Linked DNA regions of Homo sapiens. The protein of the gene in region 5 purifies or fractionates together with the protein of the main gene of each other region. This does not show direct contact. Each region holds a gene or a part of one and is shown on either strand. Other genes may lie near its edges.

The links.
Region 1: the proteins of QRFPR (region 5) and SMCHD1 fractionate together in Homo sapiens (co-fractionation; one large-scale study listed by BioGRID). This does not show direct contact.
Region 2: the proteins of QRFPR (region 5) and SLC15A4 fractionate together in Homo sapiens (co-fractionation; one large-scale study listed by BioGRID). This does not show direct contact.
Region 3: the proteins of QRFPR (region 5) and SLC38A1 fractionate together in Homo sapiens (co-fractionation; one large-scale study listed by BioGRID). This does not show direct contact.
Region 4: the proteins of QRFPR (region 5) and SLCO4A1 fractionate together in Homo sapiens (co-fractionation; one large-scale study listed by BioGRID). This does not show direct contact.

What each region holds. Positions count from the first base shown.
Region 1 is NC_000018.10:2,692,954-2,698,520, forward strand, and holds part of SMCHD1 (structural maintenance of chromosomes flexible hinge domain-containing protein 1), read left to right. Parts: intron 1-1,573; coding exon 1,574-1,740; intron 1,741-4,078; coding exon 4,079-4,169; intron 4,170-4,877; coding exon 4,878-5,088; intron 5,089-5,567. UniProt on the Homo sapiens protein: Non-canonical member of the structural maintenance of chromosomes (SMC) protein family that plays a key role in epigenetic silencing by regulating chromatin architecture.
Region 2 is NC_000012.12:128,809,940-128,815,506, reverse strand, and holds part of SLC15A4 (solute carrier family 15 member 4), read left to right. Parts: exon of another isoform or gene 1-129; intron 130-436; coding exon 437-732; intron 733-5,395; coding exon 5,396-5,564; intron 5,565-5,567. UniProt on the Homo sapiens protein: Proton-coupled amino-acid transporter that mediates the transmembrane transport of L-histidine and some di- and tripeptides from inside the lysosome to the cytosol, and plays a key role in innate immune response.
Region 3 is NC_000012.12:46,264,177-46,270,284, reverse strand, and holds the start of SLC38A1 (sodium-coupled neutral amino acid symporter 1), read left to right. Parts: upstream 1-1,241; 5' UTR 1,242-1,759; exon of another isoform or gene 1,760-1,830; intron 1,831-2,297; exon of another isoform or gene 2,298-3,060; intron 3,061-3,768; exon of another isoform or gene 3,769-3,839; intron 3,840-6,108. UniProt on the Homo sapiens protein: Symporter that cotransports short-chain neutral amino acids and sodium ions from the extraccellular to the intracellular side of the cell membrane. The transport is elctrogenic, pH dependent and driven by the Na(+) electrochemical gradient.
Region 4 is NC_000020.11:62,640,229-62,646,292, reverse strand, and holds the start of SLCO4A1 (solute carrier organic anion transporter family member 4A1), read right to left. Parts: upstream 3,791-6,064; 5' UTR 3,740-3,790; intron 1-3,739. UniProt on the Homo sapiens protein: Organic anion antiporter with apparent broad substrate specificity.
Region 5 is NC_000004.12:121,369,742-121,375,308, reverse strand, and holds part of QRFPR (pyroglutamylated RF-amide peptide receptor), read left to right. Parts: intron 1-5,567. UniProt on the Homo sapiens protein: Receptor for the orexigenic neuropeptide QRFP. The activity of this receptor is mediated by G proteins that modulate adenylate cyclase activity and intracellular calcium levels.

The DNA.
Region 1 (5,567 bases), on a different chromosome or scaffold from region 5:
GACTAATCTCCTGACTCAAAGTATATGAAATGTTACTTGTATATATTGTAGCTGTGATATTAGCAATTAGTGTATAGAGATGCATTATAATGGTTTTGAAGGGGTATGGTCTTAAGGATTTATTGTTTTTTAAATCAGAAATTTTAGAATTTGATAGACAAATTCTGAAAGAGCTGTAACACTTTTTAATTAAGCAAGTAATCATACATACTTATTTTTAAAAATCAACTTGATTTCCTAGATAGAATAGTTTAGTCTGTTTTTATTTCCACAGTTTTATAATGTATATAGCAACATACACAGTAGATATAGTCTCCTATCACTTAAGGACAGGGATGCATTCTGAGAAATGTGTCATTAGGTTATTTTGTTGCTATGTGAACATCATAGAGTGTACTTATACAAACTTAGATGGCATAGCCTGCTACACACCTAGGCTATATGGTATAGGGTACTGCTCCTAGTCTACAAATTTGTACAGCTTGTTACCCCAGGCAGTTGTAACAGAATGGTAAATATTTGTGTAGCTAAACATAGAAAAGGTACACTAATTTTACAATACTGTATCATCTTATGGGACCACTGCAGTCAATTGTTGACAAAAATGTTATGTGACATATGACTGTATATGAATACACACACAAACGCGCATGCGTGCATACCATGTTTTTTGTTTGTTTGTTTGTTTGTTTGTTTGTTTTTTGAGACATGCTTGTTGCCCAGGCTGGAGTGCAGTGGCGCGATCTTGGCTCACTGCAACCTCAGCCTCCCGGGCTCAAGCGATTCTCCTGCCTCAGCCTCCCTAGTAGCTGGGTTTATAGGCGTGTACCACCACGCCTGGCTACTTTTGTATTTTAAGTAGAGATGGGGTTTCGGCTTGTTGGCCAGGCTGATCTTAAACTCCTGACCTCAGGTGATCTGCCCGCCTCAACCTCCCAAAGTGCTGGGATTACGGGAGTGAGCTACCACGCCCGGCCTGCAATTTTTTAAAACATAGATTCATACTACAGATGGAGAAGTTTGTAATTTTATCCTCAAATTCCCCTACTAACTCCCTTCCATAAGTTTTAGATATTCTCTGAAAGTGGGTTGGTGTCCAGGATGATTTTACTTTTAAGCACTATGTGTTTGGGCTTAGCTAGCTGGGTCCAGCCTGCCCTGTAGTTTTCTTGAACATGGAGGGCTGGGCATTGGTCCTGACCAAGTTAAGTGGTAGGTCTCCCAAGCAAGCGTTCATTCTACCCTAGGGGTAAGTGTCCTCAATTTTTTAAGGCATTTTAAAACTCAGTATTTGTCTTTACCTTTTCGTTTATGATTCTAAAATCGGTTTAGCATTATAAGATAGGGTGCTCTTTATGCATGCTAGTTTAGCAGTCTGTGTGAAAGTTCCCTTGTCTTCACAGTGTTGTCACATACTCAGCCAGTTTGTTGTATTGGGCCAGTTTCCTCCAAAGCTTTTCTGAAACCTATTTGTGAAACTCCAAGTAAATCACATTAAAATTTGATGCAATAGCTATTTGTATAATTATAATTTAGATGATTTAATCTGTTGTATTTCTGTTCACTCTTGTAGCCCTCTGATTCTGTTCACATTACAAATGATGATGAAAGATTTCTACATCATCTTATCATAGAGGAGAAGGAAAAAGATAGCTTTACTGCTGTGGTTATCACAGGGGTACAACCAGAACACATACAGTACTTGAAAAATTATTTCCACCTTTGGACACGACAGTTAGCGTAAGTAATTATATTTGGCTTAGGAAATGTTGCTACTTAACTTTTTTAAGGCAGAAAACATTACAGATATATTGAAGCCTCTTTGGTATCCGTTTTGCTCCTGTCTCATTTTCTTCCCTTTAGTATTATCCAGTACTCTGATATTGGTGTTAAAACAGCTCTCTATTCATTTATTCTGTAAATATTTATAGATCACCTCTAGTGTACTGAGCATTATTTGAGGCACAGGATTTTGACAATATTATAAAATTAAAAAAGAACTTCACAGTTTGTCAGATTGAGCACTATATCACTTCCATGACCCCGTTTTGTGCTTCTTTTCCATAGGACCTGTCGTAATCTTCCATACCATATATATTTATTTTTGTTGTTAAATTCACTGCTGTATCTCCAATGTCTTCTAGAAGAATACTTGCTACATGGTAGATGCTCAAATGTTTATCAAGTGAATGAATGCATCAAGCCTATTAAAATAAAAAATATACGTACATATGTGCCTATATGACATTAGTACTGAAAATAATCATTGTGTTTTTATTCCAGTAACACTTGTAGGGACTCTATATTCCATTAGACCAAATCAGAGGAATAGTTATTTAATGGCTCTAAAAAAAAATTTTTTTTTTTTTTTTTGAGACGGAGTTTCACTCTTGTTGCCCAGGCTGGAGTGCAATGGCGCACTCTTGGCTCACTGCAACCACCACCTCCTGGGTTCAAGTGATTCTCCTGCCTCAGCCTCCCGAGTAGCTGGGATTACAGGCGCGTGCCACCACACTCAACTAATTTTTGTATTTTTAGTAGAGACAGGTTTTTGCCGTGTTGGCCAGGCTGGTCTTGAACTCCTGACCTCAGGTGATCCACCCACCTCAGCCTCCCAAAGTACTGGGATTACAGGCGTGAGCCATCGCGCCCGGCCTAAAATTTTTTTTTTATAGCTATGTGATACATACGATTTACTGTATTGTTTCCCTAATTTGCATTAGTATGAATTACTGAGACTTGCAAAATGGGTACATCTGCTCAAAATTCATATTTTAAAAATGTATCTTTTTACATTTACCCAAAAGGCTATTGTTCTTGAGAGTCTCAATTTTATACGTAATTATACGCTAAGAGAATTTTAAAATTTTTTTATGGGAAAATAAATTTGGTTTTAGGAATACCTTTTTTCTTGTTGAAGTTGTTTATTATCCCTGTTACCCAAGGTATTTAAGTAGGACTTTGCAGTTTTCTTCAAGTACATATTTTATTAGCTATTTTATAGTTTATTGAAGGAACTCAGTGTACATTAACACATAATTTAAATATACTCTTGCTCTAATGAAGGATTATGAAGAAATATTGCAAATTTCTATTTCACGAATAAAGACGTGGTATTTTATAATCCTGAACAATGTTACCAAAATATAATCTTTTTTAACCTTTTCTGAAAAAATAAAGAGGTGTTATTTCCAAAATGTTGGTTTTCAGTGAGATGGTGTCAAACTTACTAGTTTTGTTTTTGGAATCTTAGGGTAAGATTGTCTCAGTGCTATAGGAGAGGAGAGATGAATGTTCTAGAACAGGGGTCCCCAACGCCCCGGTCGTGAACTGGTACCCATCTGTGGCCTTTTAGGAACCCGGCCCCACAGTGAGTGGTGGGCCCGAGTGAGCATTACCACCTGGCTCCGCCTCCTGTCAGATCACTGGCAGCACTAGATTTCTCATAGGAGCACGAACCCTAATGTGAACTGTGCATGTGAGATATTGCGTGCTCCTTATGAGACTCTAGTGCTTGTCGATCTGAGGTGGAACATTTTCATCCCAAATCACCCCCCTTCAACTCCCATCTCTGGAAAAATTGTCTTCCATGAAACTGGTTTTGGTGCCAAAAAGGTTGGGGACTGCTGTTCTGGAATGGTATTCTCTTATTGAGATTAGATACCTAATCCAGTTTACCACCGATAATTGAGTCCTTTCTGGAACGTACCTGGTAAGTAGAATTATAGACTCTTGCTGTCTAGTTTATATTTATTTGATGAATTATTCCTCTTGGAAGTGGTGTATGTGGTCTTTGAAGTTGGAAAGGTCTGGGTTGAAGCCCACGGCTCCCTAACTCTATTCTGTGATGTCAGATAACTTACATACACTTCTTGCACCCCAGGTTCTATATCTGTAAAATGAGATGCAGTAATACCTGCATCTCAATTGTTTTTACCATTAAATGGAATATGTATTTTAAAATGCTTAATAAAGTGCTTGATACCTAGTAAATAGTGTTAAAATATTTTGATAGAAGATTACATTAACTATAATTTTATGTGAATTAAAAGTATAAAATTATTCTTCTCTATTTTAGGCATATTTATCACTACTATATTCATGGCCCAAAAGGAAATGAAATACGAACATCAAAAGAAGTTGAACCTTTCAACAATATTGATATTGAAGTAAGAGAAAAATCCATCTTAAAATAATAAAAATTATGAGATATTTGTTCCAGTTCCAAATGACTCAGGATAATAAAAAACACTTGATAATTAGACAACTTCTCTCTCCTTGTTTTTTACCAAACTACTTTCATTGTTTGATATCCAACTAAAGAGATTATTCCTAGATGTATTTTTCTCAAACCTTTATTTACTGTAGGCTTGGTTTATCTTTTTTTGTCTCTCTTCTGTGGAGCTATGCATTGTTACTGAACATCAATCATCTCTTGAAGCATGGAGGAAAAGGGAGATAATGTAGCTTTCCTTTTGTTTGTAGAAGTTATATCGTGGTGACAAGGTTTAGCAGCACAGAGCATTTGAGTATTGGATTCTCAATCCTCTAACCCACACGTTAGAATTTCACATACGATGTTGTCCCACTTCCTACCTCTAGCAAGAAACCTCGAATTAAATGTACTCATGACTTTTCTGTCCTTCAGCTCTGATTTGCTGTTTCTTTGCTTACTTTATATTTTTTAGTAGTATGTTCCTTATTGAGATGCTACTTAAAGCTGTTTAACTCATATGTAAATATATGTATTTCATTAAGCCAGATTGTTACTTGTACAAATAAACATAATTTTTACTTATTCTGTTGTTGAATCATAGCTGAGAACAAAAGTAAAGTTACCATAGAATTTAATTATTTTTGTTTCCTTTTTATTTTAGATTTCTATGTTTGAAAAAGGGAAGGTACCTAAGATTGTCAACCTAAGGGAAATACAAGACGACATGCAGACGTTGTATGTAAACACAGCAGCTGATAGTTTTGAATTCAAAGCTCATGTTGAAGGAGATGGTGTAGTGGAAGGGATTATCCGTTATCATCCATTCTTATATGATAGAGAAACTTACCCTGATGATCCATGCTTTCCATCAAGTATGTTAATCTGTTATCTTAGTTATAAAATATGAAGTTGTAATTTAGGACAGTGATTTGTTTTTCTAAATGATTATCGGTTGGGTTATTCAGGTTAGATAAATATTAAATTTTTTCTTATGCAAGTCTTAGATTGTTAGGTATTTGTAATTTTTGTAATTCCTGATTTTTGTGTACATTCATTTCTAGATGAATAAATCTTTAATGAACTCTTCTTTTAGTTCTGTTACGAAACCAAACTTTTAGATATGTATGCGTATTAATCCTTTATATGTTCCCTTGTCTTCTCTTTATCCTTGTTGCAGTTTTACACTTTATGCAGTCATATTTACTAACTTTTTCTTTATGCTTTCTGATTTTGTCTTACTGTAGAAAGGCTTTTTACATCTCAAAATTATATAAATCTGTAGCTTTTTTGTTTTTGTTGTCATTTTATGGTCAATGCATCTGTGTTTTTCTTTTTTGTATGTAGAGCAAGG
Region 2 (5,567 bases), on a different chromosome or scaffold from region 5:
ACCATGTTGGCCAGGCTGGTCTCGAACTCCATACCTCAAGTGATCCACACGCCTCAGCCTCCCAAAGTGCTAGGATTATAGGCGTGAGCCACCATGCCCAGCGGACTCTGTTTTTAAAGAGCATTCCAGGTAATTCCAAGGCAAGTGGTTCAGGTACTTAGAAAATTCTACAGCAGAATATACTTGGAAAAACTCTCTAGCATTTGTTGGAATTTAGTGTAATTAAGTGAAACCTACCTAGCAACTGTAGTAATTAAAAGCGTGGGGTGTGCTTTTTGTTGAGATCCGTGAATGTTTCTGTAAACACAATTTTGATTGTGTTGCGCTTCTTAAAGGTTGTGATGACAACGGTAATTTTAACCACTTGACCGTATATGGTTTTCATCCTTGAAGACTGTCATATATTTTCAAGTGTCTTTCCTCCCTGTTATTTTAGGTTAAAGATCGAGGTCCGGAAGCCACTAGGAGATTTTTTAATTGGTTTTATTGGAGCATTAACCTGGGAGCGATCCTGTCGTTAGGTGGCATTGCCTATATTCAGCAGAACGTCAGCTTTGTCACTGGTTATGCGATCCCCACTGTCTGCGTCGGCCTTGCTTTTGTGGTCTTCCTCTGTGGCCAGAGCGTTTTCATCACCAAGCCTCCTGATGGCAGTGCCTTCACCGACATGTTCAAGATACTGACGTATTCCTGCTGTTCCCAGAAGCGAAGTGGAGAGCGCCAGAGTAATGGGTAAGCACTTAGTTCTCATCTTGGGCTGTTTGAAAGGACTTTATCGATCTCTTTATTAACATCCTAGCTTCGGTTTGTTGTGTGCTTATTGTGTGCTGGGCCTGGGCTGAGTGGTTTACATGTCTTCTCTCCTTTAACACTGCATTTCCCCAAGGAGGCGGGTGCGGTCTTATTATCCCATCTTAAAGACAGGCCAGTGGCCTGATTCCAGAGCTCATGCTTTAACCCCACGTTGCACTTTCTCTCACTGCTAGTGTAGACGGAAGCTCCTTTGGTGCCAGATTATAAAGGTAGAAATTTGTGGAGGACATCGAGGAGACAGAAGACATGCTTTATACATGTTTCTTTTTATTTTAAAAAGCTTTGAAATACATTTGAATGAAAAACTAAGCAGTTGCTTATGCTGTCAGTACCTGTCTCTGCTCTTTAAAAAGTAAGCCACTGCCTCTTACCTAAAGGTCAGCATGGGCTCCATCATACAGCGGTCAGGTCCATCATACGGCGGTCAGGTCCATCATACAGCGGTCAGGTCCATCATACGGCGGTCAGGTCCATCATACGGCGGTCAGGTCCATCATACGGCGGTCAGGTCTGTAACTCTTGACAGGAAGGTGCAGTAGCAGAATGGCGAGATGCACTGAGGGTAACCAGATGATCTCATGGGACTTACCCAGTGTTAGCACCAAAGTCCCATGAACTGAGGTGTTAAAACAGAAAGGCCTGTGTCCTCAGAACCCCTCCAAGTCACTGGCCAACTATGACTCATGTTTGGTGATGTTGGATGCCAGTTAATAAAGTCCAGAACTTAAGCCCAAGAAGAGAGCTCAGAAGTGTTTGTGTTACTCTTTATTGAGGAATAATTTACAGATAGTAAAATTTACCCCTTATATCTGTACAGTTTTGTGAATTATGACAAACTTACTCAGGTTGTGTAACCACCAGTGCAGTCAAGGCATAGATTATTTCCATCCTTCCAGAGAAGTCTCTGGGACCTTTTGTAGTCAGTCCCCTCATGGAATGTTTTGATCAACGTAGAAATGCCTGGAGGCTGCTGGGTGGGAGGCTGATCACTCAGCCATCAGAGCGTCCTGTGTCTCTGAGCCGTGCACCCCATTGTGGCATGGCACTGGTTGCTGGACATTCTTCTGCGGGCCCACTCACACATCTGCCTGCCTGCGGCCTGTCTGTGTTTGTCTTACTCATGCTCTTGGAGCCGTAGCGAATGTGTCTAATATTCCTTCCACGTGGTAGATTGAAACTTCACCAAAATAGCCCTGTGCGCCTACTTTGCTCCTGAACATCTCTGATTTCTCCGGCTGTCCCTGTGTGGAGTTCTGGCAGATCTCACCAGTCTACATGACCTATTGGAAATGCCAGTGGGTCATTGTGGCATTCAGACACATAATTCAAAACTGCAAATGGTGGGACCGCACTAAAGAATTTTTAGTAATTAAAGTACAGGAGGCTGAGGTGGGAGGATCACTTCAGCCCAGGAGGTCAGGTCAAGGCTTCAGTGAGCCATGGTTGCACCACTACACTGTAGCCTGGGTGACAAAGTGAGACCCTGTCTCAAAAAAAAAAAAAAAAAATATAGCCCCATCTTAGCTGACACTAGTCTTTTGCCAGGGCCTTATTTGATCAGACAAAAGCAGTGTTTCGGATCCTAGAGGTCTTTTTCAGGAACAACCCTTAAAGTTTTAGTATCCGTGTGGGTGGTAGCCCATAGACATTTCTGCAAGAGAACAGCATTGTTCTGTGGACATATTTGGGTTTTAAAGCACAAATGGCAGTGTGGAGAGGGTTTGGAGTTACTTTTACTTAGGAAGCCGATTTCCTCTTAGGATAGTCTTTGAAAGTCTTCTTGGGCAAAAATAAGGGAAAAAAAAGCAGGGGCTAGCTTGCAGAAAAGTTGATGGTCTGAGGAATTCTCAGATTCTGCTGTTTGTATGAACTGGCTCTGTAACCTTGGGCAGGTTACTGATCTTGCGAAGCCCAGCTTTCCTTTTTTTACAGCGGAGATGGATTCATCTCATGGGCTCACGGTGGGGCCTGAGCACAGTGATGTGTGCAAGGCCCTCAGCAGGATGCCAGGTACATGATAAGGGCCCTGTCAGTGGTGACCACTGTGACGAGGGTGCCTTAAAAAAGGTGGGCCTCCAGGCTGGGCGTGGTGGCTCAAGCCCGTAATCCCAGCACTTTGGGAGGCCGAGGCGGGCGGATCACGAGGTCAGGAGATCGAGACCATCCTGGCGAATACGTGAAACCCCGTCTACTAAAAATACAAAAAATTAGCCGGGCGTGGTGGCGGGTGCCTGTAGTGCCAGTTACATGGGGGGCTGAGGCAGGAGAATGGCGTGAACCCGGGAGGCGGAGCTTGCAGTGAGCCGCGATCACACCACTGCACTCCAGCCTGGAAGGTAGCGAGACTCCGTCTCAAAAACGAAAAAATAAAATAAAAAAAAAAAGTTGGGCCTCCAAAGCCTGAGGAAGCATGACATACCCAACATTTTTACAGTTGTGACACTTAATTTCATCTGGCCCAATCTCAGTTTCAATCCAGGTTGATCTGTGTTTTGAAGATAATATAGTGCTTGATATTAAATGAGAAATGAAGGCGTATTTGTTCAACTCATCAGACCAGAGTAGAAATGGTTCTACAGCTTTTTGAGATACATACTTCTTTGGGAATCCGTGAGAACCAGTGGACTCTTTTCCTGGAGAATACACACACCTACATGCGGCCTTCACAGAGACTCAGGCACAGGCGTCCTGAAACTGGAGCTCGTCAACTTGTGTGGGAGGAGCAGAGGGCTCTTGTGGGTGTTCGGGTGTCACTTGTGACCGTGGCTTCGTGTTGGACCCTTGTATGTTGCAAAATAGTGCACCTAACAATATGTGTAACCCAGTAAAGCTTCAGATGCATGTTGATTTCACAGCTTTTAAATATTTTAATTACATAAAGCGAAAGTAATATAACCAGTAACCTGTGTGAATGATTCTTTGTGTGAAAATGGGTTTATTTGTTATTTAAATGTTTTTAGTGAAAGGTATTTAATATGATGTGGTAAACCACTGATAGTATCTGCATTAGGTACAAAAGGACTTTAATTTCCTTTTTGAAAAAAAGTAGTACTTGAAGAAGTTAATGTTTTCGAGTGAAAGTATTTATAATGTCTTTGGAATTTATTTTCACTTTTGGGTGTTTTTGTTTTTGATTATTTTCCCCCACTAGACTAAGTCCGTAAGGACAGGAGCCCTCCCCTTTAGCCCCCAGGTAGAGCAATGCAGGGCCTACAGCAGGTACTCGATCAGTATTTGTTGAATCGAACTTAGTTTTCTTGTCCAAAATTTGGCTAAAATATTCAGTTATAGTTTTCAGCGCTTCTATTTTTCCCCACTCTGAATGTCCAGACTTAAAATGTTGACTTTATAAGATAAAGAATTTAAAATACTGGCACCATAGTAAAATGGGACATGAGTTAATAAACTAGAAGGCTGACAGGTGCCATTTCTGTTGGCTTCCCACAGTTAAACACAATCTTATTGGGAATTAACTCTCTCCTGGTACTTCTGGCTTTAGAGAATAGTGTGCACTTTGTTTTCCCATTTTACCCCTGAGATCCTTGGAGCCCGTTCCCCATTAGAGTGTTTTGGAGCTGGGAGAGAGTGCGGAGCTGTCTAGTGGGGCCTGTTCATTTTCTAAATAATGAAGCAGGCCCAGAGCAAGGAAGTGAAACTCGTTAGTACAAGAGCTGGGGATGCCAGGTCCATGTTCCTGCTGTGACCGGCAGATGTGAGGGCAGTGGCAGGGAGTGGAGGGACAGTGGTGTCCTGCAGGGGTCAGGGCCTCAGGCTGTAAAGCCAAGACTGCCTGGGTCCAAGTCCTGGCCATACCTCAGGCACCCTTCACACTCTCTGTGCCCCGGCATCTTCCTCTGTGCAATAGGGCCCTGAAGAGTTTTAACACCACATGGTTAATGAGGGAGCACATGGGACGCGGTGCACTGGGCACTCCCTGTTTCCTACTGTCAGGGGACAGAGCCAGGGACATCCTCCTCTCATCACCACCAGCACCGCCCTCCCCCAACAGCTCTTCCTTAATCCAAGAGCTGACAGCTTTCCTCCGAGAATAGAAGCCTGCCTCAGTCCTGCCAGTGACTCAGTTTAAACCAGCAGGGTTTTATTAACAGCATGGGTATTGGCTGTCAGGTCTTGATGTTTGATAAATTAGCTGATTAAAAATTCACACAATCCAGTGCATTTTTTCATATGCTATCCAGTGGCATAGCTAGTGTCCCTCCCAGTGTCACGTAGAGCTGCAGACTCTCCCCACACGGAGATTGCCGAGCTGGCAGCTGCGCTGGGGCTCTCAGCTCAGCCGTGGTTCACACTGTCATCACAGATCTTCCAGCCACGCCAAAATTACAGTAGCCCAGTTTCACTTTGACTAGAAAGTCCCTTTGTCAGCTGTTTCAGTACATTCTGTGACATTTAGAAATAATTTAGGTAGCTGTGTTGGGTGTGTACAATTAGTAAGTGATGGAATGAGTTGAAGCAGATTCAATACAGTGAGCTGGTTTCTTACCTCCAAACTTAATTTGTGACCAAATAATTGATTGCTGGGAGGGGAAGAAAACTAATTCCTTCATTTTATTTCCCAAAGTGAAGGCATTGGAGTCTTTCAGCAATCTTCTAAACAAAGTCTGTTTGATTCATGTAAGATGTCTCATGGTGGGCCATTTACAGAAGAGAAAGTGGAAGATGTGAAAGCTCTGGTCAAGATTGTCCCTGTTTTCTTGGCTTTGATACCTTACTGGACAGTGTATTTCCAAGTG
Region 3 (6,108 bases), on a different chromosome or scaffold from region 5:
TGCTTTTCCAGTGGTGATGAAAAAGCAAAATTCACCCAAATACAATGACTACTGTCTACTTGAAACGCTCCAGGTAGTTAATTTTTGAATTATGATTCACCTTCCCTTTCCTGTTTTGATGAACCATGAACAGGAGACTGAACCTTCCCTATCAATAAAAAGCTCGCGTTTCCACCCTGCAAATTCGCGCTATGACAGTCTAATTGGCTGAGGCGCAGGTGGGATTTCCTGTCGCCATTTTAAGACACAACTCCTCTGCAAGCAAGTGCCCAGCCAGTGAAAGGGGGCTGTGTCTGAAACAAAGAGTAAGCGGGAAAAAAGGGAACCAGGCCCAGTTGCCCCTGCTCCCCTCCATGCCGCTCCCTCGTCCCCCGGACTTGGAGCGCCCCAGCTCCGTTAACCTGGACGCACCAGGTCCTTCGGTCGGGACCACGTGGGGTCTCCAGGCCCTCCAAGAGCTGGCCCCCGGCTCTTTGCGCCTAGGCCGGTGCTTTCTCGGTGCTCAGCAAATCCTTCTGGTTCACCTCACACCCAGTCCCCAAAGCAGAGCTCCACAGGGCAGATCTCAGGAAGGGCTGACCAGGTCTGCGGGTGCTGGATCCGGAAGAGGGGAGGTGCCTCCCGCTTCAGGTTAGGGACAAAGGGTTTTTAAAGGTGCCCGAGCTCCCCGCCGCCCCTGCCACTTCGGTCCCCTTCCCGCCAACCCGGGCCATCTGCAGGCTGTGCCCAGGGCCAGCCCTCCGCTCCAACGCTGCCCGTAGTCCCAGGCGCTGCCCGCGGCTCTCCGGGCTGCGCTCGGACCTGCCACTCCCGCGGCCATCCTCATGCTGCGCCCTTCCCACAATGCAACTCCCTCGCTCCTTCGGCCCCGGCGGGGCTCTGGCGTACCCAAAATGCAGGCCCCAGCGGAACGCACAGCCCTCCTGTCCTCCGCCGGTGCCCCTTTAGCCGCCCCACCCCCATCCCTAAGGGCTCTCATTCTCCAGCTGCAGCCGCAGCTGGGTTCCGAACACGCCGCCGGGCCCCGGGAGGGAGAGGGGCAGGTGCCAGGGCGGCGCGCAGCCTCTGCTCCCGGTGCCAGCTTCAGTGCGCCGGGCACACGCGCGCCCCGCAACCCCTCCCTCACCCTTTCCCCGTTGCTCAATCTCCGCCAGCCGCGGTCGCTGCATCGTCAGAGAGCTGCAAGAGGGAGGCAGCAAGGTGCGGCCGCCAGCAGTGACACCATGTGACCGGCACGGCTCACTGACACGCAGCTTTGGTTAAAGAGCGGGCGCACAGGAGGGGAGGAGACCGCGCGCGGGACGGGGAGGAATGGCCTGTCCGCGTTAAACCATCACAAGCCATGGTTGCGGAAGGGCCACGCGTCCCCCAGTAGGAGAATGACTCCGATTCGTGACCCTCAGCGCCGGTGCATGTCGATGTAAGTGCGAGGCCGGCGAGCAGAGTGTGAGTGGGGGTTGGTGGTGAGGGGAGATTCTGATGCAATCGGCCCGGAAAGGAGGAGAGCCAGGCGAGCGCGGACTGGGGCGGCCACGCCACTCCGCCAGAAGGTCGCCAGGAGCCTCCGCCCTTCACCTTCCTCCGAAATCCGCCAGGCCACGCCAAGCTCCCTGCCCAACCCTTACTGACGGGGGCCACATTTTCCCGGCCTCCGCAGCCAGACCTTGACACAAAGGACATCAAACTGCCGAGGGTAAAAACCCCGGAAGGGCGGACACCTCCACATCGCCTTTTGCCACCTTTCCCTTTATTTCCGGAGGTAAGGTGATTATCCGTTCCCGGGGAGGGCTGGGCGAGCGGCAAGGGGAGATTTAGATGTCGGAGGAGGAGGTAACGTAGAAATCATCTCTGCGGGCGTGAAAGCAGAGAGAGCTCGGCTGTGCCCGATGCTTTCGGATGTTGCTTTTAGGAGAGGAAAAGTCCAGGTCTCCTGTGCTTCCCGAACGCACGCGGCAGCGGGAGGAAGCGCCAGGGCCCCCGAGTTCACCTTTGCGTGGGCTGTGGCTTACTTTTTGGTTTGTTTTCCTGTGACTTTGGTGTGTTTTCCTGTGGCTGTGGCAGAGTGTGGTACCAGATCTGGTTCCATTTTTACGAGAGCCAGGAACCACGCACGTCTGGAGGGAGAGCGCAGCTGACCCGAGGGCGCGACCGTGTTCTGGGAGTGTTTGAATCCCCGGCCTTTGGTGAAAATTTCCTGTGTCCGCAAGGCCCAGAGGAGATCGTGTGATGTCCGGGGGGTGCTGCGTGCGGCCGGCTGGGTAGCGGCCGCGGACCACCACTAAACCGGGGCATGTTTGCCGTCCTTCCTGGTGCTCTGCCCCTCTGTAACGCGGGGAAGTAGGAGGGCGCGGGGAGAAATTACTAAAGGATGCTTGCAGTGACTCACTGTCCTTTCCTGCCCTGAAGAGGATTTTCTAAAATGCAGAGGGTGGCAGGGGACAGAGGTAGTGTTTTTTCGAGAGCCGGGATGTGCTGGAGCCAGCGAACAAAAGGCCACCTCTTGCGCGGTCTTGGGCGCAGACTGCTCTCGCTTCCAGTCCCACCTCCTCCCCAACCCCCGGCACCTAGTTCGCGTCCCTAAACGTTGCCGCAGAGGCCTTTAAACGCGTGGGTCGGTGCCGGGAGGAGAGCGCATCTTCGCCCTTGTGCGAGCCCCTTGCCCCCTAAATTATCCACCTCCTGGCGCATGGGGCTCCCCAGCACCCACTGGGACCCAGTAGGTTACCCGGCTGCCTGGGCACCGTTTGCCTGCCAAATCGCCCGCCTGAGGTTTGTGCTGAACTGTAGTTAGAGAAGGCACAAGTGCATATGGCAGCAAAAGGAATTTCGCGGTACCCGCGTCACGCCGCTCCCAGTGCCTTTCACAGGCTGCCTTGGGCTGGGGAAGGTGGTGCTACAATTCAGAGTCCTTTGTCTTGCTCTGCGGCGCGGACCCGGGGTTTGTACAAACCCTCGTTCTCTGTTAGAAACCTAACTGCCGCCAGGATCACGTACTTTCTCGGACGAATCCGCGGTGATGTGTGTAGCAAAAGTGAAAAAAGACGCCTCTGCTAGAAAACGGTATTTATTTGCGTTTGGAAGGGGTTTTGACCTCTCTGCAGTGGGTTTTTACATTTTTCAATATAAGGGGGAGGAGGAAAATAAATTTATGGTTTGCAGAATGCAGGGCCCAGCGAGGGTGTAATTTGTCACCTTGATAAAAGAAACTGTGCAGCAACTCGTGCTTTTTCTGACGTCAGAAGGACAACGGAAATAAAACCTGAGCTCGGTGCATGGCTGGCCTCGTTGTCAAATGTCTCATGCCAATTTGGTACTCCCGAAATCTTGCAAAACAGCCAATTCCGGGGTACTGACCTGGTGTGGACCCCCTGGATTTTGGTTCGACCCCAGCCTCAAAATGGCCTTTCTCTTGAGAGTCACTCGATTTCTCAGTATGTCGCTGTAAGCAATTGGAAACTGGAATAGTTTGGTTTGAGGTCTTAATCTTGAGGTTTATTCGCTTTTTAAAAAAATGTGGCCAATAAACATTTTCTACAGAGGGCTTACTGTGCGACTGGCAGCAACTAACAAGATTTGTTTCACCTTCTATGAAGCTTCCGTTCTCAGGGGGAAATAGACTATATAAATGTAGGCATATACATTTCAGGTATTCTTAGTGCAATGAAGAAATAAAACAGGATCATGTGATGGGGGAGGATGCTTGAAATAGAGTGACTCACCGGGAGGGGCGGTGTGAGGGTATAACATTTGTCCTCAGACCCGAATGATGAAAAGGGATCAGCTATTTCCATAATTGAGGGAAGAAGGCCAGCGGAAGGAACAGGAAGAAGGAACAGCAAGTACTTATTGCACTCTTCTTTGACTGTAATATAATTGAACAGATAGATGAATAGATTTTAAAGGTGTTTTGGAGCTTTAAACCTATATGTATGTTGTTTATGTATATTTTTTATGATGCTTCATGAATTAAGGCCATTTAATGAAAGGAGCACCATGTTTCTGATATCTGACTATTGCTACTCTTTTCTTTACTCTGGGTGATGCTTGTGGACAAAAACCGATTTTACTCATTGTTCCTCTAATGTCCAGCACATAGTACCTGCTTAATAAATACTTGTTGGATCGAGACCTTGAGACCTTGATCAGGCCATCTTGTTCATCTCTTTGTGATATTATTGGCCATCCCTTCCGTTCTATATCTCATCTGTTCCCCTTCTCCTAAGTTTGAAAATGAGAGTCTTTTTCTTCTCTGCTTCTCCTTCTCGTACTGCCCTTCCCACTTTGAGCAGTGACCAGGCCCTTGAAAATACCCCTCACACTTGTCCTCTTGTCTCCATTTCCACTGCCCAAGTTCAGGTCCCTGTCACCTTACCTAGACTTGGAGACATATGAAACAGATATAGAGGTGCCTTGAACAACCTAGGGGCAGTGGGAGTGGGCGGTGGAGAAAAATGCAAGCACAACATATGGTTAAGAGTGAAACAGCCAGTTACTGAGGTGGAACAGCTTTCCTGTTGGTCTCTCCTCCATATCAAGTTATGCTCCCCTAATTAAATCTCCATTCTTTCATGAGGTTTATATTTCTAAAATTCAGTTCACATTTTGTTAAAGGACCTTGCTTTTAAAAACCTCTGAGGGTTTCCATTGCACACAAATACAGTCTAAATTCCTTAGCCATACACTTAGGACCCTTCACAATCTGCCTTCTCATCTCTTTCCAATTTTTTCTCTTGATATTTTCTTTCTCACAGTTCACCCTATTCCCTCCCTATCACTTTTCTGCTTCAATATCTGTGTGGATTGGATTCCAGTCCAGAATGCCTACTGAAATCCTGTGTACTTGTGATGGCCTATCCCTGATGCCACTTTTCCACCTCTTGGGAGAAGTGTTCACTGATCACCTCACTGGCATTTTCATAAGTATTTGTTTATCCTTCACATTTTGGACTGTTGTTACTCCAGGTGATGGAAGGTGGTGAATAGGGGCTTAGGCTCTGAGTCAAATATAAATATCAGGCCTCAGCTTACTCACCCAGGAATCTTGGGCAAGGTGTTTGGCATCTCTAAGCCTCAGTTTTTTCTTTTGCTAAATGGGAATGATGATGCTGGTGGTAGTGTTGGTGGTACCCACTTTACTGAGTGATGGTAAAGATTTAATGAAGATAATGAATGTGAAGTATTTGGTATAGTGTTAGCATTCCATATGTATTGAATTAAACATATCTACCAGAGGAGGGAGAGAAAGTTGATCAGTAAAGTTCCCTTTACCTCTGAAATTCTGTGACTATGTAATCTTTTAAAAATACTTTTCTGAAAATATATCTTGATGGAAACTACCTGGATCTTTTTAGTCTCTGGGAGAATATACATCTATGAAAGGTGGTGAGGAGGTAGGAGAAGTATGTGCACAGAAGTACTTTGAAGAATGTGTGACAGACTTCGAAAAAGACATCTTGTATGCAAAGGCACACAGAGTAATATAATGGACTGTGGAGACTCAGAAGCCAGAGGTTGGAAGGGAGGATGCCAGATAAAAAGCTACAGATTGGGTACAATGTGTACTACTCAGATGACAAGTGCACTAAAGTCTCAGATTTCATCACTTTCAATTCATTTATATAACCACCAAAAATCACTGATACCCCAAAATCTATTGAAATAAAAAAATTTTAAGTAAAATTAAAAGATTAACTTCAATAACCTAAAAAAAGACACTGACCCTAGATTTAAAATAAGATTTTAAATTTAAAAATATTGTTGTACTTATTTCTGAAAATTGATCACATATTTGTTTTCTAGTGATAACCTTACTAATAACAGAGGAGTTCCCCTAACCATGTTACCTTCCCAATCACTGAATTCCTCTACTATTAGTAAGTAACTCTGTTTCAAGTGAGGTTACAATGTGTCTTTGGCAATAACTAGCTGGGTACCCTTGAGCAACTCATTTCACATTTTTATGCCTCATTTTCTCATCTGTCCAATGCTAATAATAGTATCAGTGCTGCGTACCTCAGAGTTGTGAAGATACAATGAGAGCAGAGCTGAGAAAGTCCTTGAACAAGTTTAAAAAAACTATTCAAGATGATAGTCATCTGGCATTAAGCA
Region 4 (6,064 bases), on a different chromosome or scaffold from region 5:
GAGGGTGAAGGTGAGGAGGCAGGGGATGCCCAGGACCTCCCTCCTCCAGGAGAGCCCTGTGCACCACAGGAGGCAGGGCGGGTGGTGGGAGGGAAGGGCGGGCAGCTCAGAGGTCCGCCAGCAAAGGGGCTCAAACCTGACCCCCAATGTGTGGGAGAGACAAGACCCAGAAGGGCCCTCGGGGAGCTTGAGAGGCTGCAGGGAGCAGGTTCTGTCCAGATGAGGAACCTGCCTGGCACAGCTGGGCCACTCTCCTCCCAGGTGGCCTCCTAGGCCCATGGGTCCAAATCTCAGGTCCACAGCGCCTCCCGAAAGGCAGAGTCCAGTGGCAAATGCAAGGGCCCCAAGTGAGCCTGGGGCAGACTGGACGACACACGCCACCCAAAGCATCGCAAGCTCTCCCTGCGGCTTGGGCCAGAGGGGCAATGCCTCAGGTGCCCCCCAAGGCTTGCCAGATTAGAAAAACCACCAAGAAAAGGCAAGGTCCGTGGGCAGGAAGGGCCTGGCTGCGCGTGGGAGGGAGAGGAATCTGGGCTCTCTGGCACCCAAAAGCGACCCCAGCCACTGGTGCCAAGTCTCACCCTACGCTTGGGCTACGTGGGGAGCGGCTTCTGCAGAAGGCACGTGGTTTGAAAAAGCAGTCACCTTCCGCCAGAAATGTAGTCCCAGGGTCTAATTCTGTGTGATGCTGGTGGGAAGGAGGCTACTGAAAAGAACTGAAGGGTTGGAGACAGCCGGAGACCCCAGTGTCTGAGGACTGAGGGTGAGGCTGCGGGTGAGGATGAGGGTGAGGGTGCGGGTGTGGGTGGGTCCTCACCCGCACCCTCATCCTCACCCGCACCCTCACCCTCACCGTAGCCTGAAGGGCCAGCAGGGGCCAGAGAAGGCAGCAGGGTCCCCAGGACCAGGTTGTTCTTTGTAGTCCCAGTCTGCTTCCTCTGCAGAGGCCCACAGGAGGACACGCCCAGAGTCTGTTGTCCCAGCAGCAGGGCCAGTTTCCTCCTCACACCCCTGGCAGGGCCAAGGCTCAGAGTCACCCAGAACCTGTTAACCTAGCATGTGAGTTACTGGCACCTCCCTCCCTGTTCAAGGGGTGCAATCCCCACGTGCCCATTCCAACAAGTGGGCAAGACCCAGATCCTGCCTGAAGTCAGCTGACACTCAGCAAGCTCACTGGGGGGCCAGACAGTGGTCCATGTCCCAGAACGAAGGCAACAGCAAGGTCTGAGGACTGTCCCATGTCCTTGTCCAAAAGCCAACAGTGTGCACCTTGCCACTTGCAAATGAGGCAGTCATGTGGCTCGTGAGGGAACGTTTTGTGGCCTCTGTCCACAGCCCGCTTGAGGAAGCAGGAGGGCTGGCCTGGCGTGGCTCTCTCCCAGAGCTCCAAGGGCCCTGCTCCCTCCTGCCCCCAGCACCAGGCTGCACGTTGGCTTTTCTGTGGCTCATCTCTGACCACCTACAACCATCTGCTGGGGAGAGCACCAGGACCCAACACGTTCCAGTGGACGAGTCCAGGAAGCCAGGAATGTATATTGGCTCAGCAGTACCCACCCCAGAAATGGATTAACACTCATGGAGACATCCGGATCGAAGACCTTGTAGGCACAATACTAAGCTCGATGAGTTAACTTTTCATTCTACAATGGGCTGAGAAAAATTTTGCCATTTGGAAGTCAGACCGACCTGGAGCCAAAACTGCAATGGGGCTTGGTCAAGCCAAGGGGCCCATCAGAGCCCCGAGGAGAGCCGGCCTCTCTGGGCTTAGTCTAGCAAGGAGAGCATGTCCATCCACCTGGCCACCCTTCACCTGGCCCAGCCTGCCCTGCCTGCCACGTGCCCAGCCAGCTCTCCACCATGGGAGGGACTTGCCCAGCACCTGCTTTAGGGGCCACACCCAGTGAGCTACAGATTAGGTCACGGCCACTCGGGAGGGAAGCTCCCTCATGAAGAATTTTCCAGGCACCACCTGCTGACCTTGCCCAGCAGGAAGGCAGGACACAGCCTGCTGAGGGCGGTCAGGGCAGCCTGGCTGTGGTCAGCGTCCAGGTCTCACCGAGTGGCCGGCCTCTGCCCTGGCTCCCTCCAGCAGCACAGAGGGAAGTCGGGCTGTGTGGTCTCGGCCCGAGCAACATCCTACTGGTGTCCTGCGATCACTGACAACCCAGAACAGACACTCTGGCCCAGTAACCGCAGGCCCAGCTCTTGGGACGCTGTTCTGGGTCTCCGGCCTGACCCTGCAGTCGCCTTTTGCCTCTTTAAGAACAGAGTCGTAAAACAGGAGCCCAAGCCTGGATCAGACAAACCTGGAGTCAGACCTCTTCAGCACTTACAAGCTGTGTGGCCTAGAGTCAATCACTTAACCTCTTGGTGCCTCAGTTTACTCATCTATAAAGTGGGAGTGATAATGGCCACCTCGTGGGGTTGCTAGGGACTGAATGAGACGATGCTCAAAGCAGGGGTACCATGCCCGGCACATTCCAGCACTCAACACCTAACCCCTGCTGTCACTGTCCTTGTCATTATTACCAGATTCACAAGCGGAGCCGGCTAAGGCCAAGGAGCTGTCCTCTGAGATCCATTTGCTCCCGCTGCTGGGAATGAAAACGTCGCTGACACCGGGCTCTGCAGAGCCAGTTTCTGATTAGATGGAGGTAACCCAAGTTCCAAAAACCACAGCTGAGGAGCAGCAGCTGACAAGCTGGTTGCATGGATGTGGAAAACTACCGCGTTCCAGCCGCCTCCAGACAGAAACAGGACGCATAGCCAGGTCCCACGGCAGCTCCAAAGAGGGCCTTGCACGCCAAGCGGGGCACCCCCCAGCCTGAGGGTTCACCAACCACGCGGACCACGCGGAAACCTAGCTGGGCTTCTCTCTCCCCTCGGGGCGCCAGTGCGGGAGGCGGTTTCTCCCTTGGAAGTGGAAGTCAGATCTGCTTCCAGGTTCCCGGTCTAGGGCCGGTCTAGGGCAGCTAAGCCTGCCTGCTCCTTCCTTTCCATCCTCCCTGGTCAGGGGAGCCCAACAGCAACGCGAGGGCACCCGACCCTCTGCCTGCACCTGGAGGGCGCCCGGGTCCCCCCAAGCCACGGCCAGGACGTCGCGTGGTGGGGCAGGGAAAGGGGCGCCGCCGCTGCTGGAAACTAGCCCTGTGCGCTCCGCCCGCGCTCCCCTCCCGGAGATGTCTCGAGCGCCTCTGGCGCGAACAAAGCCCGGCCGCCCCCGAGAAACTTCCGTGCATGAAGGTTTCCTCCTTGACTCGGCAGCAGCGGCCGCCGCAGGTGGGTGACTCCGCAACTCTGGAGCTCCGCGGAGGCGCGTTCGTCCCCAGCTGGATCTGTGGGGCCTGCGCCTGCGCGCGCTCCGGGCCACCTGCCCAGGTCACCTGCCCCGGCCACTCCGACAGTCCCTGCCAGGGCCGCAGCCCCTGCTCACCCGCTTCCCCCCGGCACCCGCTGCAGCGTGGGGCCCCTTCGCCTCGGTCCTCCTGCGGGCGACTCGGGAGCTCCTACCTGCGCAGCCGGCGGCGGGAAGCGGCGAATTTGGCCTCCGATTCCGCTCGGTCCTGCCCTCCCCCGCGGAGAGGCTCGGGGCGCTCGGCCGGTGCCCAGGCCTCCCGCCCCCGCGCGCATCCCCCCGGCGCTCCAGCCCCTGCCCACGATGGCGGCACCTGCCGCGCTCCTACGCCAGCAGGTCGGGCCCTGTGCACCCGCGCCAGCTCCCCGCTCCCCGCGCACTCACCGTCCCCGTCTCGAGGGCCCGGCCGCCGCGCCGCGCAGCGCTCCACGCTCTGGCCTCCCCGGCAGCCACGCGCCGCTTCATTCATCCGCTGGGGCCGCCCCCGCCGCAGAGGGAGGGGCGGGGTTTCCTGCGCGGGGCCCGCCTCACCCCCCACGGCCAATGGCAGCGGCGACCGCCCCCTCCTCCCCCCCAGGGCACAGAGGCGGGAACGCGCGGCGGGGGACCAGGGCGTCTCTCTCCGGAGCGCTGCCGCCTCCTGGACTCCCCGCTCCAGCTCCAAGGACCGGCATCGCTGCCGCAGCCGGGAGGCCGAGAACGCGCGGTGGCGACGCCGCCCCAGGCCACGCGGCGAGGCGGTTCCGAACGGACTCGGGATTCGCTCCTGGGCGCTGTGGGGCCGAGTGGAGCCAAGCGGCCGTTTTTCAGCTCCGCCCTTCCGAAAGGCTGCCGCAGGGTCGGGGCCACGTGGGGCCCGCGGCAGAGGGGCTGGGGGAACGCCACGGGCGGCCCTGGTGAAGGTGCCCGCCGGTCTCGGCCTGACCCCCAGGCCCTGTTCTGGCACGCGCCCCACCTGCGCGCACAGTGAGACCGGCGCCCTAGCCTGGGAATCCGGGGAATCTCCAGCCCGTTGCCTTTTCCATAACCCCGTCTTCTTTTTCACACTAGCTCTGAGGGTGGAAGGCAGGGAGGTGCCAGCCACGTTCCCTTCCACAGAGGGAACTCCCTGTTGGAATTCCTACCCCGGCTTCCTGCCGTCTGTCCTGGAACACATTGCTCCAGGCCTCCGAGCCTCAGTTTCCTCGTTTGCAAAATGGGGGCGATAACAGAGCGTCCTCAAAGGGGATAAGACGGAAGAAGTTGGCTCATATCAGGGCTCATAATTGTTGCCAAGTATTAACAGGTAACCACAATCACACTCCACAAAGCTTCCCTTTTAGTGTCAGTGAAATTAATTTAAAAGAAGTTTCCGAAAGTCAAGTGTGTGTGTGTGAATCCTGAGATAAGTCAGGTAAGGGGGGAAATGACCACCTCACGGCCCCAGGCTGGTGAGGAAGTCCTAGCCACGGAGGCGGTGCTGCAGGACCTGGCCTGGTGGCATAGCGTGGCGGGCGGGTTCACCGTGGAGAGACGAAGGAGGTGCTGCGGCTTGTGAGAAAAGGCCCACAACCCCATGCAGTTATTTATGAAATGGTTTTCCTTCCTCCAGGGCTTGGGGCTCCTGCCCACTCGTATCAGGTCCCGGGACCCCCCCGGTGGTGTCCTCAGGGCTCCCGCCGTCCCAGGCCGCCCTCCACTTCTGGAAGCAGACACGAGGCCACGAGACCCACTGCTTTTGGGTATCTGCTTTCATTCCTGACACTGCCCTTTAAGAGAAAAAAGTACCCACATTGTTCCCAGATGGAGAGGGTCCCTCCCAGAGGGTGAGGCACTGCCACAGGGGCTCACGGCCCTGCCAGGAGTGGAAGGTGCACACCCAGAAGTATTTCTCCTGTGAAGGAAGGGGGCTGAGCTTCGCTGCAGACCTGGCCTCAGGTGTGGATGAGCTTCGCTGCAGACCTGGCCTCAGGTGCGGAGTCTGCGGGAGCAGCATTTCCAGGCAGACCTGACAGAAGGTGCCTTTGAGAGGTGGTGAGCTCCGTGTTACAGGAGGCTTGTGAGCACAGGTAGCCCATCTTCTGGTGATGATGCTGGAGAAGCAATTCAAATGTCAGAAGCAGGACTGGACTCTGTTTCCAAAACTCACGTCTGGATTCTACCCCCTGAAAACATTATTTACACAATGTTTTTCCTTTAAACAATTCACACATTTGATTAAAAGGGTAAGTTTATTTTTTAAAAAGTCAGTGTCAATTACCACAAAGAGGTCACCATAAAAATAGATAAAAAGAAACAAAATGGCATTAAATTCTAGCCAAATATTGCTGCCTGTGGAGGGCTCCCGGCCTGAGACCCGCCTCAGACCCCACCAGGCATTCTTTGGGATTCCTGCATAGGCACCATTGGAAAGGTAAATCCAGAGCAAACATTTCAGGTACATTCGTGCAAAATGCAGGCCCTCAGTCCTGTCCTCAAAGGCAAATGCTGGTGCCCAGGCTCCTCAAGAGGCCCCTAGGAGCACCAGGAGGCCTTGACCCAGGTGAAGGGTCCTGCCGCAGGCCATCAAGGGGGTCTGCAGGTCTGGCCCAACTCCAGGCCCTGCGTGGTGGGGTCCATCTGCACCAGCTTTCGGGAGCCGACTGTGTCCTTACTCTTGCCCTAGAGGACTCGGGGGTCAGCTACAGAGCACAGCAGTGTCTTGGAACAAGGGCAGCCTGATTATGTGCC
Region 5 (5,567 bases):
CAAGTATTGAGGAGTAGGGAGCTTGAATCAGATTAGGGGATGTTCACAGTCTGATGGGTTTGAGTCCAAAGTTGAGGGATAGGCTGGGAGAGAATGGGACTCGTGGTAGCTGAGGTAAATGAAAACTTAAGGCATAGGAATGTTAATTCTGAACACTTCCCAGGAGGAGACAGAAAATCAGTTCTAATGCTAGCCTGCTTTATGACTCTAAGCATTAAGAAGATGAAATGGGGAGTGTTTGGGGTGTGCCTGGAGTAGTGGCCTTGCTAGGATCCTGCTGGGTTCTGTATCCACTTTCATCCTGCTGTGGATTCCGGCACAGCCAGAGGGAGGATGGTCTCCTCAGGTGCACACACAGCTCTGCAGCACTCCCCCAAATCCTGCCGTGGGCAGTGAAAAGAATTTTCTAGCAGTGGCTGGCAAATTGACTAAAAGCAATTCCAAAAAAAAGGAGTTTGAAATATATTCTAAGTAATGGCAGCATCGTTGGGGGAAGTACACATTCATGCACTTTTACTATCTTTGAAGAGTATTAGGGTAAGAAAACACAGAAAATTAATTTTCTCAGCAGCTGATATGAGAATTCCTCTTAGAGTGGTAATGCTCAATCTTGGCAACATGTAGTAAATCATCTGGGAGTTTTTTAAAACACAGATGCCTGGTTCCTACCCCTGGAGATTCTGATTTAATTGGTCTGATTATAATTGGTATGGAGTTTTCAAAAGTTCCCAAAGTTAGAAAAGTTATAATTTGCAGCCAAAGTTGAAAGCCACTGATGTAGTGTAAATGCTGACAGCACCAGGAGTTCCCCAAGTTAGAAAAGTTATAATTTGCAGCCAAGATTTAAAATCATTGATGTAGTGTAAATGCTGACAGCTCCAGGACTCAGGCTGATATGAAGATTAAAAGAAATAATAGATGTAAACACTTTTTAAAAAAGTATAGTGCCTACCCCATGTACCAGCTCAATATAGCTATTATATATTTAAAAAATAGCAATGGCAGTCAGAATGCTTAGAAAATGCAAAAGTAGATTATATTAACTGGAGTCCAACAAGGAGCTCAGAGGCAATTCTTCCGTTTTCTGCAGCCTATTGCGTCTTTACTAAAGCCCTTAACGTTTTTAGAGTCTTTCAAGATGAATTTGGAAAGGATTCAAAAATGGTGAAAAGATTGGAATATAAGACATACAAAGAAATATAAGAAGAATTATTCTCTTGCCTGGAGAATAGAACTTTAGTTATAAATTAGCACACCTCACCACAAAGGTTTTTCAGTCTATTTTGCCCAGGGCCACAGCGGATGTGGGCGGGTAACAGAATGGTAGTAGGCGAAGCTCCAAGCTTCATTATAACAGCTCCTGTCTCTCTTTTTAAGAATTAGAATTTTGCATGACTTTATATGAAAAATGAAAGGATTTAACTGGAAGGAAAGGAGGGAGAGAAAGAAAGCACTCACTGTACACAACATGAAATGTTAGGGTGTGTTTTTAGAGATTGAGAGCTGATACATTGTGAAATGAATTAAAGGAGGTTGTTGAACTTCATTTAGTGAAAAGATCTTAATTTTGAGGGCCAATTCAGAACAGAGAGCTTAACCTGGAACTTCTTCGGTCCCATTTTATTATTCAATCAGTGACTAGAAAACATCAGTTACATGTGTTATATAATTTTTTTCTATGATATTTCAGAAATTTTAGAGTTCTTGGGGAAATTTACATATGGTAAGATTGGTGTAAAATCAACAGTATTGTGGGGCTTAAAAAGTCAACAGAAATGATAAAAGCTATTGATGAAGAATAGTCTTTTTAAAATAAGGAAGTATTAAAAAAGATGTAAATTAAACAGAGGTCCAACAGCAACAGTAGTTTGGAAATAAAGTCAGGAATTATGCTGTGGACAGCCTCTGGTTGATCTTTCCTAGAATCAATTACGTGCACACTTTGAGAAGAAAAGATGCTGTAGGTCACTAAATTTTTTTGGTAGGTGAGAGAGTGGCAGTAACAGCAACAGCATTTATGTAAAAGATTCTCTCTACTTAGGACAAGAACAGTTTACATTTAAAATAATGACAAGGATTTAGCAGTAAGAAAGTTTTAAATATTTCACTGTGCACTTAGGAGGCATAAAATGAATTCCCTTTTAGTTTGCTTTTCTAAAACATAACTATTCTTTGATAAGTTGTTGATTTATTAGGATTCTTGTTTGTGGGAAGAGAAGCCCAACTTAAATTACCTTAAGAAAAAAAAGGGAATATTCTACCTCTGCAACTGAAAAGGTCAGAGTTAGGGCTGGTTTTAGGCATAACTGGATTAAGGTCTTCAACAGTGATCATCCTCCCCCTCGGCGGCCAGCTCCACTTCCCTCTGTGTTGTGGTTTCATTCTAGAGCTGTCTTTTGCCCAAGTGTGAAAGATGACCCCAGGAGCTATAAGCTTACATTTTCTTTAAAACTCCCTGTCTCAAACCAAGTGTCCATCGATGGACAAATGGATATACAAAATATGCTGTGTATACACACAGTGGAATATCACTCAGGCATGAAAGGGAATGAAGTTCTGATACTTACTACAACATGGATGAACTTTGAAAGCATTATGCTCAGTTAAATAAGCCAGACACAAGAGGACAAATGTTGTGTGATTCTACTTACATGAACTATTTAGAATAAGCAAAGTCATAGAGACAGAAAAGGTACTAATGTTACCAGGGGCTATGGGGAGGGCAGAGTGGGGAGTTATTGCTTAATGCTTAGATTTCTGTTTGGGGTTATGAAAAAGTTTTTGAAACAGATAGTGGTGTTCATTGCACGACACTGTGAATGTGATTAATGCCACTGAATCATACACTTAAAAATGGCTAAAATCATAAATTTTATGTTAGATATATTCTACCACAATAAAAAATTCTAGAACAAAAAATAAAACTTTTTATCTCAGGAAATGAGAGAGAATACTTCCCGGTAGTTGCAGAAAATTCTGGAAGGATTCTAGCCAGTTTGGCCTTGCTGTCTTACCCATAGAACTAATCACGCACCTCAGGGAGCGCCATCGTCACTCCTATTCAAACACCCAGAGATACCCCCTACAGCAGGAAGAAAAGCCTATTGAGGAGCCACTGTGAGGCAGTTTCTTATCCCTGTCTTGTGGGAGACTGACCTTCTCTTATCTATCTCCCGTTTGGTTTCCGTTGAGTGTAAGACTTCCCTCCTTTCTCCCCACCTTGCTCCCACTTAAGGTTCAGCTACAGTCTTTTGTGTAAGTCTGTACAATTTCTTGGCCGTGGTTTAAGGGTTGCTCCTCCCCAGCAGGGCAACCCATTGCCCATACTGTCAGTCATCTTGCTCTTCAAGGCTCAGTGTCTTCCTGTGTTGATCTTGCCTTTGGCATCTGTGCAAGTAATAAACTTCCTGAATCCATTGATGCTCATTGTCTCCTTACTAACTGAATCAATGGAAGTGTGACAAGCTAACAACTGTAGTAGTGACACTTGGGACCCTGTTAGCCACTAAGCCCCTTGGAAAGGCTTGACTGCTTAGCATGAAGTTCTTCCATAGGAAGGTACTCAGGGTAGATATGTTTAGCAGAGTTGGCCATTTATGTCTAGTGGAGTGAGTCAACTTACAGGGACTAAAGCTCCCCGATCATATGTCTTCCCATAAGGCCAAGCCCTGCACTAGGTTTCTCAGGACCAAGCTGAACCAGAGTTCTGAGTGGCTCTTCCTTGTCTGCCTTTCCTGGTCTGGGATGGAGTGCTGGGATCTCCCTCTGCTGCTCCCATCTCATTTATTGATATATACTCCCCAGTGGACCAACTTCCAGGCTGCCAATTCCTTCTAGTAGTGGACATATGCCTTCTCCCTCTGCTAAGGAATTATTGAAAGGTCAGTGAACGGGGTTCTAGAAGTTGATATTGGCAGTTCCCTCTCAGTCTGTGCCTTTAAGAAAAATTCAGCAGAAGCTATACTATTTGTTTCATTTTATGCCTTAAAACTAAAGATTCTTAAGGATGAATTCCGAAGTAATTAAGTAAGTGCTTATTGTTTTTATCTGTCTTTGCAAAACTAAATTAGTCCTACCTGTAGCTTGGTTTTGGAGAAACACATTTACTGTCATATCAGAGAGATTGTAGGCTATTCAGGGTAATAGAAATCTTAAAAGACAGCATGTTCCTACATCCTGGGAGAAATAGAAGGATAGAGAAACAGTTAGATGCTGTGAAAACAAACATGGATTGTGGAATCAAACAATATTGGGTTCTAATCCTGTTCCATCCTTTATTAGTGTTTGTATTAACTAGATTATAAGTTACATGGCCTGGCATTAAAGCTTCCCCTATTAGAAGACCAAGGAGAGAAGTTATAAAATAATGTTTGATGCTGCCCCCCAGTGGTTGATGTGGTGGCAGAAAATATGACAAAGATACAGGTTTTAGATCAAGCTTTATTTTCACAAAAATATTAATGCATATAATGCATATCTAGTTCTTCTTACTTCCCATTTGATTTCTCTATGAAGCATATAGTATTTACATATTTTCATTTATGCAATCTCATTTTAAAGTCCCCTTTAATACATGTATGAAAATATGTTAACGTTTTAAAAAAATTTCCTGTGGGATTGAGATGCATTTAAAATCTGTAAACGTCGGGTAGTGTTGCCTAGTGAGTCCTGGAGACCTTTGAAGTCACTGCCACTCTCACCATGGCTTGGGTCCAGATGCGCCACAGCCTCTTGGGGATGTAGGCCCTTGGAATCTTTTTAGTGCCGGACTCCCGGCCACAGGCAGTCCCGCGGCAGCAGGATAGCAGAACCTCTGGATGGACTCTTCCTGGGAAGTTTTGCTAATTTGCAGCAGCTGGACCATGTTCCTCATTAACATCCATCTGTCAGCTTAGTCGTCACATCATTTCACCGTGGTGGCAGGGATTCTATATAGAAAAAACACCTGGATCTCAGCCTTTCAATGGCTTCAAGACAACCAGAAGTGCCTGCTCTTGAGGCTAGTGGGCCTCTAGGCAAGATGTCCCTGCCCTTCAGGATATACCGCCGGGCACTCAGCTATGATGATACCCTCAAGGACCCTGCACCCATGACTCCTCCTCCATCAGACATGGGCAGCATCCCTTGGAAGCCAGTGATTTCAGAGCACAAGTATCAGCACCTCACCAAGGTGGAGGAAGGAGAGGCCAGTCTACCCTCCCCTGCCAGTCCCTGTCATCGGCCATTGACAGTGTGGACAAGCTCCCAGTGGTGAAGGCTAAAGCTACCCATGTCGTCATGAATTATGTGATCACAAAACAGACCCAGGAAAGCTTTCAGCATTTTGGGCAACAGGCAGGGCTGAGAGATCCTGGCTACACACCCACAAGGGTGTCACCACTCAGAAGACCAAGTACCTTAGAGTAGCAGAAGCACTCCACAAACTAAAGCTGCAGAGTGGAGAGATAACAAAAGAAGAGAGGCCACCTGCATCAGCCCTGTCCACCCCAAGCACCACTTCTCACTTTTCACCTAAGCAGAGACCCAGGGGCTGGTTCACTTCTGGTTCTTCCACAGCCTTACCTGGC